2 separate regions of the Homo sapiens genome follow, and region 2 is linked to region 1. Evidence: fine-mapped expression QTL. Tissue or cell type: whole blood. Region 1 holds a variant in brackets; the other region holds the start of a gene. All regions are shown on one strand. Distances are from middle to middle.

What was found. PIP is the estimated chance that this variant, and not a neighbour inherited with it, causes the effect.
Region 2: PHF13 starts here. The variant in region 1 is fine-mapped to the expression of PHF13 in whole blood (TOPMed, PIP above 0.99).

What each region holds. Positions count from the first base shown.
Region 1 is chr1:6,636,618-6,644,707 of GRCh38, reverse strand. DNAJC11 (DnaJ heat shock protein family (Hsp40) member C11) reads left to right here. Exons shown (of 16, transcript NM_018198.4): 10 at 34-150; 11 at 4,651-4,806; 12 at 6,344-6,413; 13 at 7,204-7,261; 14 at 7,368-7,510. Among named protein-coding and RNA genes, the nearest start is that of THAP3, 16 kb to the right of the region's middle. The variant G/A (reference allele first, on the strand shown) is at 4,819.
Region 2 is chr1:6,609,547-6,617,636 of GRCh38, reverse strand. It overlaps PHF13 (PHD finger protein 13), which reads right to left and starts at 3,906. Exons shown (of 4, transcript NM_153812.3): 1 at 3,532-3,906; 2 at 779-880. The coding sequence starts at 3,570. LOC107984913 (a long non-coding RNA gene) reads left to right here and starts at 4,250. Exons shown (of 2, transcript XR_001737882.3): 1 at 4,250-4,945. RefSeq lists silencers at 2,718-3,177, 3,318-3,407, 3,578-4,357, 4,408-4,457.

The sequences.
Region 1 (8,090 bases):
GGCACAGGCACAGACCGCGTTCTCTCCCTGCAGAGCAGGCTTCTTTGGGACGGTGGTGGAGTACGGAGCTGAGAGGAAGATCTCCAGGCACAGCGTTTTGGGTGCAGCTGTCAGCGTTGGAGTTCCACAGGGTGTTTCTCTCAAAGTCAAGTAAGTTGAACTTAGGCCTTTCGGGTCAAGGAATGCCTGTCACCTTCACTCAACCAGGCTTTACCCAAGTTAAGGCTGAAATAGCCTTTGCATTGTAATTTTGTTCTTAAAGACACAGTTGCTTGGCTAGGTGCAGTGGCTTATGCCTGTAATCCCAGCACTTTAGGAGGCCAAGGCGGCCGGATCGCCTGAGGTCAGGAGTTTGAGACCAGCCTGGCCAACGTGGTGAAACCCCATCTCTACTGAAAATACAAAAATTAGCCAGACGTGGTGGCACACGCCTATAATCCCAGCTATTTGGGAGGCCGAGGCAGGAGAATTGCTTGAACCCGAAGGCGGAGGTTGCAGTGAGCTGAGATGGAGATCGTGCCACTGCACTCCAGCCTGGAGGACAGTGAGACTCCGTCTCAAAAAATATAAAAAAAAAAATTCAGCCAGGTGCCGTGGATCACGAGGTCAGGAGATCGAGACCATCCTGGCTAACATGGTGAAACCCCATCTCTACTAAAAATACAAAAAATTAGCCAGGGGTGGTGGCGGGTGCCTGTAGTCCCAGGTACTCGGGAGGCTGAGGCAGGAGAATCGCTTGAACCCAGGAGGCGGAGCTTGCAGTGAGCCAGGATCGCTCCATTGCACTCCAGCCCGGGTGACAGAGTGAGACTCCATCTCAAAAAAAAAATACAGTTGCTTGTGTCTTTGCTGAGTAAGCAAATGTCAAGCAGTGCATAGTTCCAACACCGAGTGAGTGAGGTGTACGTCTGAGCTCCAGCAGCCTCGCCTGATGTCACAGGATGCATCCTAGCAGCCCAGTCCTCCTGGAGTCACTGGCCTGGCAGCTATCCCCCGGGCACAGCATCTCCAGTAGCAGCTGCCATATCGGTTCATCCCTCTCACCAGGGGTTTCCATTGGCACACATACCCTTGCTCCACCTGAGTCTAGTCACTGTCCTCTCCTTAGTTCCTCAAAAGAGTTGTCTGGTTTTGGCCGGGCACTGTGGCTCACACCTGTAATCCCAGCACTTTGGGAGGCCAAGGCGGGCAGATCACGAGGTCAGGAGATTGAGACCATCCTGGCTAACACGGTGAAACCCCGTCTCTACTAAAAATACAAAAAATTAACCGGGCGTGGTGGCGGGCGCCTGTAGTCTCTGCTACTTGGGAGGCTGAGGCAGGAGAATGGTGTGAACCCGGGAGGCAGAGCTTGCAGTGAGTCGAGATGGCGCCACTGCACTCCAGCCTGGGCATCAGAGCGAGACTCCACTCAAAAAAAAAAAAAAAAATGTCTGTTTTCGCTTGCATCCGTCTTCTTTCTTTCTAAACGTGCTCCAGTCAGGCCTCTCCAGCAAAACCAGCCCTCTCCAGAATCAGCCTTTCTCACCTCATCAGTGGGGCACCCTCCCTCCTGTGGCAGATCAGAGGGTGATTCTTCTTCATCTCATTTGGTCTCTGCACCTGCTGTCGCGGTGGCCGTTCCCTCCTGCCCTTACAGCCTCTCTGCCCTGAGTTTCCAGGATACCACGCCCTGCTCTGGCTTTCCGTACCAGATGGCTGCTGTCTCCCAAACCCCTAAATGGAGGCACCACTGCAGGGCACAGCCCTTCTCTCTCGACTCACTCCCAAGCAGTCATGTCCAGCCTCATGGCTCTCATGCCCTGAGGACTCACGTTGCAAGTGCCAGCTTGGACCACCCCCTCAATCTCCAGCTCATATATTTGTCCAGCTTTCTCTTCCTAATCTCTACTTGGATACCTAACAGCATCTCAGATGTCACGTATCCAAACAGAACTCGATCCCTCCCTGTGCCCCCAGAAACGAAGAACCTTCAGAACCTGCTCTGCCCGAAGTCTTTCCCATCTCTCTCTCTTTTTTTATTTTATTTTTATAGAGACAGGGTCTCACTTGGTTGCCCAGGTTGGTTTTGAACTCCTGGCTTCAAGTAGTTCTCCCGCTTCGGCCTCCTAAAGTGTTAGGATTACAGGTGTGAGCCACAGCGCCCAGCCTCCTTTCCTATCTCAGTAAATGAGAGCTCTGGCCTTCTACTTGCTCTGTCCAAAAACCTTGGAGTCAGCCTCGATCTCTTTCTCTCCCACACTCCAAATCATACATATCTCAAAATCATCTCCTGAACATGTACTCCAAAATTGTATCCCCAGTCTCGCCATTTCTCAACCTCACTGCGGCCAGCATCTTTGTCTTAGTTACACAGCACCCTCCCCACGGAACCTGTCTCCCTCCTTGTGTGTCTGCTTTCCGTAGGAGAGTCCTTTTTAAAATTGAAGGCAGTTCACGTCTGTCTTCTGCCTAAAACCTCAGAGGTTCCCTCAATTCCAGTCGGAGGCCAAAGCCCTTCAGAGACTTTGGAGCCTACAATGCCCTCCGTGATGTAGTACTCCTCTCTACCCCAACCCCAGCCATCCTGACCCCCTGGAGCTATTCCTGGCACACACCAGGCCCCCTCCTGCTTATGAGGTGGCCTTTGCTATTTCTCAGTCTGCAGATAAATACGTGGCCATTTCCTTCACTCCCTGTAAGTATCTGCTGTCTGCTCAAATGTCCCCTAATTCACCTTGTATAACATAGTAGCCCTTCCCCTTGCCCCAGGTGATCCCCCCCACCATGTTTGCCATGTTCAATCTCCAACGAGCCAGTCTCCATCTGAAGGGCCATCTCCTGCACTCCTCATCAGACATAAGCTCTTGGACTTGGTCCATTTTATTCTCACCCGCACTTCTAGAACCTAAAACCCATCGTGGTACTTGAGAGGAACTCAGTGAGTGAATCAAAGTGGATCACAGCTCAGTTTTGGAAACAAAGCCAAATCACTTACCTAGATTAGAGCTGGCGTCAGCCATCTCTCCTCAGATAATATTTGAAGGCTCAGTACAGTGGCGCGCACACTTTGGGAGGCCAAGACAGGAAGATCACTTGAGCCCAGGAGCTCAAGGTGGTAGTGAGCTGTGATTGTGCCCCTCAGCCTAGATGACAGAGTGAGACCCTGTCACTTCAAAAAAAAAAAAAAATTTTTGTCTTGAAGTCTACCTTATCTGTTACTATATAGCTTTTTTAGTCTTCTTATGCTTACTATTTATTTTTTTTACCCATTCACATTTAACCTGTCTCTGTTTGTGTGTGTGTGTGTGTGTGTGTGTGTATATATATATATATATTTTTTTTTTTTTTGGAGACGGAGTTTCGCTCTTGCACCCCAGACTGGAGTGCATTTGGCTCACTGCAACCTCCACCTCCCAGGTTCAAGCAATTCTCCTACCTCAGCCTCCTGAGTAGCTGGGATTACAGGCGCCCACCACCACACCCAGCTAATTTTTGTATTTTAAGTAGAGACAGGGTTTCACCATGTTGGCCAGGCTGGTCTCAAACTCCTGACCTCAAGCGATCCTCCTGCCTCAGCCTCCCAAAATGCTAGGATTACAGGCGTGAGCCACTGAGCCTGGCCAAGTTTTGAGTGTTCTTTATCAATTCTGGAATTGCTTTTATTCTGGAAGAGCTTTTATTCTGGAAGAGTGTGATCAGGTATTGTCAGTGGCTACTCAGCATGTTTTCTTTTTCTGGCTTTTCAGCAGTTTGTGATGTACATAGATAAGGCTGTTGTTGTATTTATGATGCTTGGGGTTTCCTAAACTTCTTGCATCTGTAAATTTCCTTTTCCTCACTGGGGCTCTAATTACCAATATATTAAACTTAACACTCTTCCACGGGTTTCTGAGATTCTGTCCATGCATCCTCAGTCCTTTTCCTCTTGTTGACCAGGCTGGAGTGCTGTGGTACAATCTGCCTCCTGGGTTGAAGCGTTCTCCCGCCTCACTCAGCCTCCCGAGTAGCTGGGACTACAGACAGGTACCACCACGCCCGGCTAATTTTTGTATTTTTGGTAGAGATGAAGTTTCACCATGTTGGCCAGGCTGGTCTCAAATTCCTGACCTCAGGTGATTCGCCCACCTCAGCCTCCCAAAGTACTGGGATTACAGGCGTGAGCCACCACGCCTGGCCAAATTTTTTATATGTGGTCCAGAGTTTACACATTGGTCCAATAGGAGCTACTTTACTCAGCCACCACTGGAAGCAGAACCTCCTTAACTGACTAACTTTTGAAGTCTTCACTAACTTCTTTGGAAACCTCAGTTAAGAACTGAGATGTGACTCTCCAGTGACATCTGGAGGAGCCCATTCCTGTCCTCTCCAGCCTATGACTGAATGCACCTGTAGGGGACGTTGACCCCGTGAAGTGTTCCTCTTGTTGCTTTGGCTTGAGGTCAGCAGACACTGGGATCTTTCTTCTGTCACAGTGTCAGATCCATCAGCCAGACTTTGGAACGGGAGGCCAGAAGGTGGTGGACTGTGAAAGGAGCAGACTGCAGGCTCCTTTAACTCGCAGCTGCACGCAGCACAAGTTCTCTTCCTGTGCCTGACACCCCATTGCCCTTCCCTGGAAAACCTGATTCATCTTGGCTTTTTTTTTTTTTTTTTTGTATTTTTCCCCAGGCTCAACAGGGCCAGTCAGACATACTTCTTCCCTATTCACTTGACGGACCAGCTTCTGCCCAGCGCCATGTTCTATGCCACCGTGGGGCCTCTAGTGGTCTACTTTGCCATGCACCGTCTGATCATCAAACCATACCTCAGGGCTCAGAAAGAGAAGTGAGTTGACAC[G/A]TCATGGGCATGTCACTAGCCAGCCCTGTGCCTCAGTTTCCTCACCCTTAAAATGGAGAGGATAACAGAGCCTCCTGCGTCGGGTGATGAGGAAACCTGAATTAAGTAATGCATGTAAAGCACTTAGGCTGATGTCTGGGTCACGATTGGTAAATGTTAACTATTTCTCCTCATTGTCCGTAGTTGGACTGCTGTTATCTCTTCGTTTGTAAATCTTACTCTCAGAAAGGACTGGAGTTTATAGAAGTGTTGGGCCTCGGCTGGGCGTGGTGGCTCACGCCTGTATTCCCAGCACTTTGGAAGGCTGAGGCAGGTGGATTACCCGAGGTGAGGCGTTCAGGACCAGTCTGGCCAACATGGTGAAACCCTGTCTCTACTAAAAAAATAGAAAAATTAGCCGGGCGTGGTGGCACGTGCCTGTAATCCCAGCTACCTGGGAGGCTGAGACAGGAGAATTGCTTGAACCTGGGAGGTGGATGTTGCAGTGAGCCTAGATTGCGCCATTGCACTCCAGCCTGGGTGACAGAGCAAGACTCGGTCTCAAAAAAAAAAAAAAAAAAAGTGTTGATCCTCTAAACCATGGCCTCAAGAAAGAAGAAGTTTTCCTTTCTCCTTTCCCAGCGCTGAGTTTAAGAGGAATGCGTTCTGGATCCGTATGTGAGGGGCCTGCGTTAACTAGAGTCTTGAAAGTCACAGAAACACAACGTTTTTGCAGTTTCTTAGATAATCCATTGGGGCATGCCGTGAAACCTAAATTATTAGTGCAAGCATCTCTACAGAAAACTGAGAGCTGGTATAGATTTGTTACTTTATAATATCTCATTTAGTAAAGCATTGCACTTAGAGAATCTCAGATAAAGGAATGAATCTCCTCTTCTGGGCCCGTCTGGCCTTTGGACTCAGAATCCTAATTCCCTAGGAGGCTTGAGGCTTAGAACAAGACATGTGCTGGCCCAGCCTTCTCTCAGAAGGGAGGACAGGCATATGCTGACCCCAAGGCCCATACTTTGTTACAGGAAAGCGGATCTGTGTGTCTAAAGTGGTATTAGTTGTTCCTACCAAAAGTGTTATTTAACAACTCACGCCTGTAACCCTAGCACTTCGGGAGGCCGAGACAGTAGGATCACTTGAGCCCAGGAGTTCGAGACTAGCCTGGGCAATATAGTGAGACCCCCATCTCTATCTTAAAATTAAAATTAAAAAAATAATAATCCCACAAGGTTGGTGGGATCTCCTGAAATTCTCCTGTGGTGGGGTCTTCTTTCCAAAGAGACTGACAGTCGGTGTCCCGTCAGCTTGGTGAGGAGGTGGGGCAGAGCCATCTAAGGATAAAATGAAAGCTGCCAGCCTGTGACTAACAGACTTGCCTGAGACTGTCGTGGGAATATTTTTTAAAGTTCTACAACTGAACTCCAGTAAGATCACAGACTGTTTGCTGGGCTCGGGTCCAGCACGGGAGGGGCTGTGTTGGCTGGAAGCTGGGCAGCGCCGCGCTAACGTGGGGCTTGTGTTCCTCTCGCGTAAGGGAATTGGAGAAGCAGAGGGAAAGCGCCGCCACCGATGTGCTGCAGAAGAAGCAAGAGGCGGAGTCCGCTGTGAGTGCTGCCCCACCGTTCCCAAGCGAGGGCTGTAGGGGACACACTCCACACCCCACATGTTGGTCTCAGGGCCTTAGAGGTCAGACTTCTCTTCTCCAACAACTTGGCTCTCCACTTAGTCTTTATTGTGGGATGCGACACTGGGCTCTGCAGTCCCTGCCCTGAAGATAATTACCCTCCAAAGGCCTAACAAGGGCTTTTTTAAAGTGGTGAGTATTGGCCTCTTTTTCTTCCCTCTGAGTGTTCTGCCTTTTACTGAGCAGGAGGGAGCAGGCTTCCTGGGTATGTGGCGAGCATACTGCCAGGTGGCCATGGGCCGTGTGCGCGGCCTGGCGAGCACATGCCTGTCTGAGGGGGCGGCACAGCTATGCCCAGCAGAATGGCACCACAGGAGAACACAGGTCCTTTCTCAAGAGGAGCTGGGATTCCAGCTTCTCCTGTGAAATCTCTTTATTTTTAAAGCTGACAACGCATTGTTTTTTTATTGGGTCAACAAATCCCACCCACGCATTAATGATCCCTAGAAAGGGAGCTCCCACCGGTGGCCACCGGAGGGTCATGCCGTTTCAGGTGCTTCTCACCTTCTGACCCAGAGCTGCCTGCCCTAGGTCTAGGAGTTTCAGAGTGAGCCACTCGGGTAGCAGAGCTGTCAGGGTGCCCACTCCCTTCCTTTCCAGGCCCTGAGCAAGTATGTTGACGTGGACAAGACTGCCTGCCTGTGGCCCTCTCACCAGAGGTGGAACAGGCCTGGCAGGGCCCTGACTGTGTCATCCTTGTTCTCTGGCAGGTCCGGCTGATGCAGGAATCTGTCCGAAGGATAATTGAGGCAGAAGAGTCCAGAATGGGTGAGAACATGTGTCCTCTCTTGGTCCAGGGTGGGCGCTGGGGGTCTCTAAGCCACACAAGGAGGTGCCTGGAGGAGGCCTTCCTCTACTCGGAGTCTGTCCTTAGGCCTCATCATCGTCAATGCCTGGTACGGGAAGTTTGTCAATGACAAGAGCAGGAAGAGCGAGAAGGTGAAGGTGATTGACGTGACTGTGCCCCTGCAGTGCCTGGTGAAGGACTCGAAGCTCATCCTCACGGAGGCCTCCAAGGTACAGCAGCACCAGCCACCACATGCTATGTGCTCACAGATTTGAACAGGCTGGGCGCGGTGACTCAGGCCTATAATCCTAGCACTTTGGAAGGCCAAGGTGGGCGGATTGCTTGAGCCCAGGAGTTCAAGATCAGCCTAGGCAACATGGCAAAACCCTATCTCTACAAAAAAGAGAAAAAATCAGCTGGGCATGGTGACACACACCTGTTGTCCCAGCTGTTCGGGAGGCTGAAGCGGAAGGATTGGTTGAGCCCAGGAGGTTGAGGCTACAGTGAGCTGTGATTGTGCCACTGCACTCCAGCCTGGGTGACAGAGCAAGACCCTGTCTCAAAACAAACAAACAAACAGTGGTGTGAAGAATAGGTTCAGTCTGACAAGGACAGCCTGGCCCCTTAAAGTGGGATCTTTGCCGTCATCAGCATCTACTGTGTGGGATGCTGCCCAGCTCCTGAGTAGTACCCACGTTGGAGCTATTCTCTTCATTCAGTCATTTCTTTCACCACTCAGTAAGGATTTACTGAGCCCCTGGTGTGTGCCAGTCACACCAGCAAACAGAACACACGCCTGCCTTCATGGCA
Region 2 (8,090 bases), 27 kb after region 1:
GACAACACGGTGAAACCCCGTCTCTAGTAAAAATACAAAAAACTAGCTGGGTGTGGTGGCGCGCCCAGCTACTCATGAGGCTGAGACAGGAGAATCGCTTGAACCCAGGAGGCAGAGGTTGCAGTGAGCCACAATTGCACCACGGCACTCCAGCCTGGGCGACAGAGCCAGACTCCATTTCAAACAAACAAACAAAAAGAGCAAGCAAATATCACATATTTTATTTGTAAATAAACTGAAAGTTTACTAAATCGGCTGGGCGGTAGCTCACGCCTGTAATCCCAGCACTCTGGGAGGCCGAGGCAGGTGAATCACCTGAGGTCAGGAGTTCGAGACCAGTCTGGCCAACAAGGTAAAACCCTGTCTCTACCAAAAATACAAAAAAGAATTAGCGTGGTGGCGCACGCCTGTCATCCCAACTACTGAGGAGGTTGAGGCAGGAGAATCCCTTGAACCCGGGGGTGGAGTTTTACGACACTGCACTCCAGCCTGGGCGACAGAGCAAGTTTCCATTCCAAAAAAAAAGAAAGTTTACTAAATCATTTTCTAGACAAGCCTGCATTTTCTACCAGAGTTTTTACCAGAGTTTTAGAACCATTTCCCCAGCTAATTCAAACTCTCAAGAAACAGATTTCTGCCAGACTAGTGACTGGGGTCACCACAAGCAGCCCCTTCCAAACCTACTGACCCTCTGACCAGTCAGAAGCCCACGAACTTGCGGTGGAGGCACTGGGTTTGACTACTCATCAAGAAAGGTCTCAGAAACTCAGAAGATTACCTCCTTCGGATAAGGGATGTAGCCAGCATAGGCCAAGACAAAGGTGCAGAATTTGTTGAAGTCTTCCACGGTCCTGCGCCTCTTGCAACTGGGGGAGTATTCCTATTAAGGGGAGAGAAAAGGGAATGTGTTTGAAGGAGAGGCTTCCAGGCGGAATCACAGAAACAAAAGGAAGTAAGCTGGAACTTTTGTAGTCAATCACTCAAAAAATACCGTTAGATTTACACAGTCCACAAACAAGATACGGTAAGTTCAGGTCAAGAAATAACACTATTTTCAGAGAGCAGAAAGAGGAGTATTAAGACTTTATGCCAAGAATGCTGGGAAATCAGCTGGGAGATAAAAACTTCTACAAAAGTCTATTTCTTAGTGCTCATGTGGCATTTTCTGACTTTATCTATTAGTTTCCACAGGCCTATCAGGCGAAGCTCTAATAACTACTTTTTTGCTACAGATTTTCCATTCTGAGTATGAACTGCTGCAGCAGCAGCTGGAACTGATGTATGTTAAGTGATTTCAAAAATCAACCACTCGCCGGGCGCGGTGGCTCTCGTCTGTAATCCCAGCACTTTGGGAGGCCGAGGCGGGCGGATCACGAGGTCAGGAGTTCGAGACCAGCCTGACCAACATGGTGAAACCCCGTCTCTACTAAAAATACAAAAATTAGCCGGGCGTGGTGGCGTGCACCTGTAGTCCCAACTACTCAGGAGGCTGAGGCAGGAGAATCGCGTGAACCCGGAGGCGGAGGTTACAGTGAGCCAAGATCGCGCCACTGCACTCCAGCCCGGTAGACAGAGCTAAGATTCCAACTCAAAAAAAAAAAAAAAAAAAAATCAACCACTCATTCTCCAGAGCTCTCGGAGACCTGGACCCTGGAGTTCACTCCTGGCTGACCCTGCCAAGCTAGCGCCACCTGAGGACCCCTCTCTCGTGCTCAGAGGGTCCCCTCCACTGTCCCAGCCAGTCGGGATGCCAGGCACCCAACTATCTCAACTCACAATAAACCAAGAACCTTACTGCGAAGCTTAGTCTTACATTTAAACGGAATAGTGGAGGTTTTTGCTCGCGGGTCCCAGCCCCATTCCATCTAGAAACACCCATCACAAAAAGATATTTTCTCCTGAGAGAAGCACGGAGAGATGGAGCTCTTATTTGCTCCTAAGCAAAACAAGTGTGCCGTATTGCTGTTTATTCGCCCGGCACGTTCCCTGAGGTTCCTTTCAGTGCCTTGTCCGACCCACCCCCATCCTTCCCGAGGTGCTGTTACCCGGCCGCCACTCTGCTGGGGGAGAGCCGGTGGGGAAATGGGGGGCAGGGGTCTCGGGCCGCCCCTCCCGCCGCGAGGAGCAGGCGTGCGGCCCGCGGGTTTTCTTTCGAGAAAGTCGGTGCCCTTAGAAAATTATTTTCTCAACCTGGTTCAAGCAAACCTTCTCCTCTCCCACCCCCTTGGACCCCAGGGCCGCCCACGGAGCGGAGGCGAAGGCCCGCGTTGACCGCGCTCCCCGCACTGGCGAGCCTGCCCAGCCACGGGAACCGCGGGCCGCCACCCGGGCCTCCAACTCCCGCGAAGAACTTTTCTTTCGGCGGGGAACCAGCAGAAGTGGGTCAAAAACCCGAATGCCAAGTGGAGGGCGGCGACGGCCTCGGGCCGGGGGCGCGCGGGAGGCACCGGCGCGGGGACTGGGGGTTCCACGCCGCCCCCACACGGCCCACGCCGCCCGCCCCCCCGGCCGCCTCCTCGGAAAGCAGATGGCGGAGCGGCCCCCACCCGCCCTCCCGCGGCAGCCGCCCCCCGCGACACTCGGCCCCCGAAGGTGCGGGGCCCATCCCGCGAGTATGTGTGAGGGGGGTGCGCCAGGCAGGATTCCGGGGTCCCAGGCCTGGGGAGGCCCTGCGAACCCCCGGGGGCGGCAGCGAGACCGGCGGGCTCCGGCGCCGCCTCCCCTCCCCCACCCGCCCGCGGTCGCCGGACCCGCACCCCCGACCCCAACGAGCCTCGGCTGGGGGGAGGGGACCGCGCGGGGGGGAGGCCGGGAGCCCCGAGGGCCGATCCCCGGAAGGAGGGGGAGTGAGCCGGGGCGGAGCCAGCAAAGCCCGCGGGCGGGGGGCGGGGGCCCGAAGAGAGAGGCCAGCGCGCCGGGGGGCGGTGGGTGGGGGCAGGACTCGGGTCCCCAGAGCGGGTGGGGCCCCCGGAGGACGCGGCCCCCGAGAGCCGTAGGGGGCGGGGGCCGACTGGGCCCCGCGCGGAGTCAGGGGGCGGGGCGCGGGCCACCGGGCCCGGGGGATCGGGGGAGCAGCCGGGGGCCTCGGGAGCCGACCCCGGTCCGAGGGGGGCCTAAAACTCCTCGAGAGCAACCGGAGCCAGGGGCGGGCGGCGGCTCGGACCGCGTCCCCGGGGGCGGGGAAAGAGTAAGCAGGCCGGCGGGGAGGGGCTGGGGGCGCCGACAGGTCCCAGGTCGACGCGAGGCCGGAGAGGGGCGGCCCGGGGGAGAGAAATAGGCGCAACGGCCCTGGGGAAAGGGCGCGGGGAGGACGCGGAGGTCCGCGGAGGGGACGCGGAGGCGAGGCCCGGCGGAGAGGACCGAGCGCGGGCCCGAGCAGGGGGCGGGGGTTGGGCTCCCGGGGGGGCCGACGAGGGGAAAGCGGGGGAAGGGGAGGGCGGCGCTCCGGGCGACCGGGGGTCTGGCTGCCTGAGGACGGCAGGATCGCGGAGGGGGTGGTCGGGGGCGATTCGGACGCACAGCTTCACTCACCTCCGGGTGGAAGGCGGCGGCGCAAGAGTCAGAGTCCATGTTCCGGGCGGGGGGCGGCGGCGGCTGCGAGAGTGCAGGAGCTGGGATGCTGGAGCGGGGCCGCCCGGGGCTGGGGGCTCGGGCGGCTGCGCAGGGCGAGGGCGGACCCGGGAGGGGTCGCCCGGGCTGGAGGTGATGGGGGGCTCAGCGCGTCGCTTCTCAAGCTCTGTGACCCCGGACTGGCGGTTCCACCGCCGACCGGAGTGGACGATGCAGCTCCCGCGGCGGTAGAGGCGGGAGAGTGGCTGCAGGGGGCGGCGGCGGCGGCGGTGAGCGGGAACCCGACCGGCTCCCCGACCTGACGCCCAGTTCGGCTCGTGTCTCGGGAGGGAGGGCGGGAGAGCCGGGAGGCCTGTCGGGAAATGTAGTCTGGGTGGCGACTGGAAGCCAGCGGCGAGGGGGCGTGGCGCGGGAGGCGGGCGCGGTGCCTTGTGGGAGTGGTAGTCCAAGGCCCCGCCAATACTGCGCACAAAGGAAACCTTGGGGACTCCAACCCCCATGAGGCTCCGCGGCGGCGGCCCCGGTGTGTGGAGGCGGGTCTTCTGGACTCGAGGCCGCGCGAGCGGGGGAGGTGCGGGGGCCCGCGCCGGCTCGGCCGCGGGGGGAGGGGCAGTGTGAGCGGTAGCGCCTTGGTCTCGGCGGGCGCGGGGGCGGGAGTCGCTGCGGCGGTGGGGGCGGGGCTGACGGCCCGGGTTGCGAAGGGCGGCGGCGGCTGGCACCTACCCTTCCTCGTCTCCTACTTGGGGTTCGCGCCCCTTTGTGGGGCGGGGGTCCCCGAGGCCTGGCCGGGAGTAGGGGCGGCAGGGGCGGGGACGCTGACGTCGCGGCCGCCCCGGGCATCGCTCCCCGCTCCCCGCTCCCCGCTGAGGGCGGAGTCGCCGCCCGGCCCCCGCTCCAGGCCGGGCTCAGCGAAGTTGTTTTCGCGGCTGCGGGCTTCGTGCGGCTCCCTGCTCCGGGCCCGCGGGGCCGGGACTGGACCGGGCTCTTCTCTAGGCATCTGCGGGATTCACTCGAGGTGGCCGGGTTCGTGCATTAAAAACACCGGGCCAGCGTTGTCAGTGTTCTAAAGAGGTGTGCGTTCAGTTTGCTTTCTGTTGCCGCCTAAGCCTAACCTTGGGACCGGCCGTTTTCCCACTCTCCTGAATATCCTCCGGCCCGCAGGGCGAGGCGGAGACGCGGTGTTTGGCGCTGGCATCGACTGGTACTTGTTTAGTGGTGTTTAACTGGGATGGGCAGTGTGTAAACGCTGGACCGCAGAGTATCCGACAGCTGTACGTGTGGAAGGCTGGCCGGACACGGTGGGGACTGCCCCTATGCGGTGACCAAAAGGCGGTCTGACGGGAACATTTTTAATATTCGAAAGTGGGGGAAAAAGGTAAGTACAAAACGCAGATGATTCAGTAACCTGTTTGGTAGCTTCGAAGAAGTTAAAGGGGAGTGACACAAAATTGAAAATTCAAATTAGAAAACGAACTCTTGGAGATACTAGTAAGATATTTGACAGGCGCCGAATGCTCCATCAAGCTGGCTGTTGCTATTTCAAGGGTTATGATCATTCTGATGAAGATATTTAATAGTTAGGAGATGGTGTTAATCTTAGAAATACTTCTCTGAGCGGCCGGGCGCGGTGGCTCGCGCCTGTATTCCCAGCACTTTGGGAGGCCGAGGCGGGTGGATCACGAGGTCAGGAGTTCGAAACCAGCCTGACCAACATGGTGAAACCCCGTCTTTACTAAAAATACAAAAATTAGATGGGCGTGGTGGCGGACACCTGTAATCCCAGCTACTCGGGAGGCTGAGGCGGGAGAATTGCTTGAACCCGGGAGGCGGAGCTTGCAGTGAGCCGAGATCGTGCCACTGCACTCCAGCCTGGGCGACAGAGCGAGACTCTGTCTCAAAAAAAAAAAAAAAAATACTTCTCTGAGCCTCAGTTTCCTAAGCTGTTAAATTTTAGCGTAGTGCCTGGCTAAATAAATGGTAGCTTACTGTTGTTGTTGTTGTTGTTGTTTTATTATTTCTGCAATATTGTAGCCCATTGGAGGGCTTCCCAAAGGTGATAAATTGAGGTACTTTACAAGATAAAACATGAAATTACTGATTAAAACAGAGACATTGGACTTGGCCCATCGAGACTTGATTAACAACTTCTTATACAATTGCACAGATGATTTAGCCAGATTTGGAATGTTACCTGGTTACTGTGACCAAAGCAGATGCCCCGAAGTTAGCCTGTATTGCCCAAGGTCATATTCACAAGGAGCAACTCGTTTTGCCAGAATAAGAAACACTGCTAAGGTGTTGATCCCGTTGGTAGTTTAAAAATGTAAATACCAAAAAGAATAATTCTTTTTTTTTTTGGAGACAGAATCTCCCTCTGTCGCCAGGCTGGAGTACAGTGGCGCCATCTCAGCTCACTGCAACCTCCACCTCCCGGGTTCAAGCGATTCTCCTGCCTCAGCCTCCCAAGTAGCCTGGACTACCAGCGCCCACCACCACGCCCAGCTAGTTTTTGTATTTTTAGTACAGACAGGGTTTCACCATGTTGGCCAGATGGTCTTGATCTCTTGACCTCGTGATCCGCACACCTAGGCCTCCCAAAGTGCAGGGATTACAGGCGTGAGCCACCGCGCCTGGCCAAGAATAATTATTAGAGGTGAAACCCAAGTGAAAGAAGAGGGATTTTTTTTTTTACACCTCATTATTATCCCCTGTGGTAAATGTGTCACATAATAAACATTAAATCCTTTCCCACACACACACATATTAAGAAATTATCGGGCCAGGCACGGTGGCTCACACCTGTAATCCTAGCACTTTGGGAGGCCGAGGCAGGCAGATCACCTGAGGTCAGGAGTTCGAGACCAGCCTGACCGACATGGGTCAGGGAGGTGGAGGTTGCAGTGAGCCGAGATCACGCCATTGCACTCCAGCCTGGGCAACAAGAGCGAAACTCCATCTCAAAAAAAGAAAGAATGGCCACCCGCCTCAGCCTCCCCCAAAGTGCTGGGATTAACAGGCGTGAGCCACCATGCCAGGCCTAATTTTTTTTTTTTTAAGACAGGGTCTCCGTATGTTGCCAAGGCTGTTCTGGAACTCCTGGGCTCAAGGGATCCTCCCACCCAGGCCTCCCAAATTGTAGAGTTTACAGTCCTGAGCTATCTTGCCTGCCTGGAGTGAATACCCACTCTGAGCAAAAGTTATCACTTGAGTCTGAAAATCTGTCCCCTGACTCAATCCATGTTTGGGATTTTCCTTCCTTGATGTAACCAAGTAGTCCAATATAGGCCTGTGAATTCTAAGCTCAGTTTTGTCAACAAGTCCATTATTCTGAGTAGGTCCTTCATTTCCAATTTGAGAGTTTATTCTTCTTTCTTTTTTGAGACAGTTTCACTCTTGTTGCCCCTGCTGGAGTACAGTGGTGTGATCCTGGTTCACCACAACCTCTATCTCCCGGGTTCAAGCGATTCTCCTGCCTCAGCCTCCTGAGAGCTGGGATTACAGGCATGCGCCACAACACCCGGCTAATTTTTTGTATTTTTAGTAGAGACGGGGTTTCACCATGTTGGACAGGCTGGTCTTGAACTCTTGGCCTCATGTGATCTGCCTGTCTCAGCCTCCCAAAGTGCTGGGATTACAGGCATAAGCCACCGCACCCAGATATTTATTGAATATGTTTTTAGTAAACAGTAATTTTTAGTACATAGATATGACCTGTACCTTCCTGCTACTCCAGTGAAAGAGAAAACTTCAAGAAAAAGGACCTCTTTTGTCTTTCCATTTCCCTTAGAAATACAGCCCTTTGGAGGAAATTTAGACATTAATGTTTAGCATCCTTTCCCTAAATTCAGAAAAAGGACTATACCACTTGTAGTTGACCCAAACGATCTCATAATATGTAGCTGTGGAGTAATAAAGTTGATTTTCTCACGCCTGTAATCCCAGCACTTTGGGAGGCCGAGGCGGGCGAATCACGAGGTCAAGAGATCAAGACCATCCTGTCCAACATGTTGAAACCCTGTCTGTACTAAAAATACAAAAATTATCTGGGTGTGGTGGCACGCATCTGTAGTCCCAGCTACTCCGGAGGCTGAGGCAGGAGAATGGCGTGAACCCGGAAGGCAGAGGTTGCAGTGAGCGGAGATCATGCCACTGCACTGCAGCCTGGCGACAGAGTCAGACTCCGTCTCAAAAAACACAGTTGATTTTCTGTGACAGGATTAGGTTTGTTCAGTATCTCCCGTTTTTTTCATAGGTGTATTGTACTACTCCTGGGCTGCAGGGGGCGAATCTGAAATTCCTTGATTAGTTCAAGAACATTCACCACAGTAGCCAGATCCTTGGAGTCTATGATTCTTTGTTTTCTGCTAAAAACAAAAAACAAACTAATTATACCAACTGCTGAATACTAATTCTCAGATGATTATAGTTACTTAGGAGAGGAGGAAAAAAGCCAACGTTAGCACAGGTTGCAACAAGTTAAAAATACTAAGAATACCATGGTTTCCCGGTAAGTAACTTGA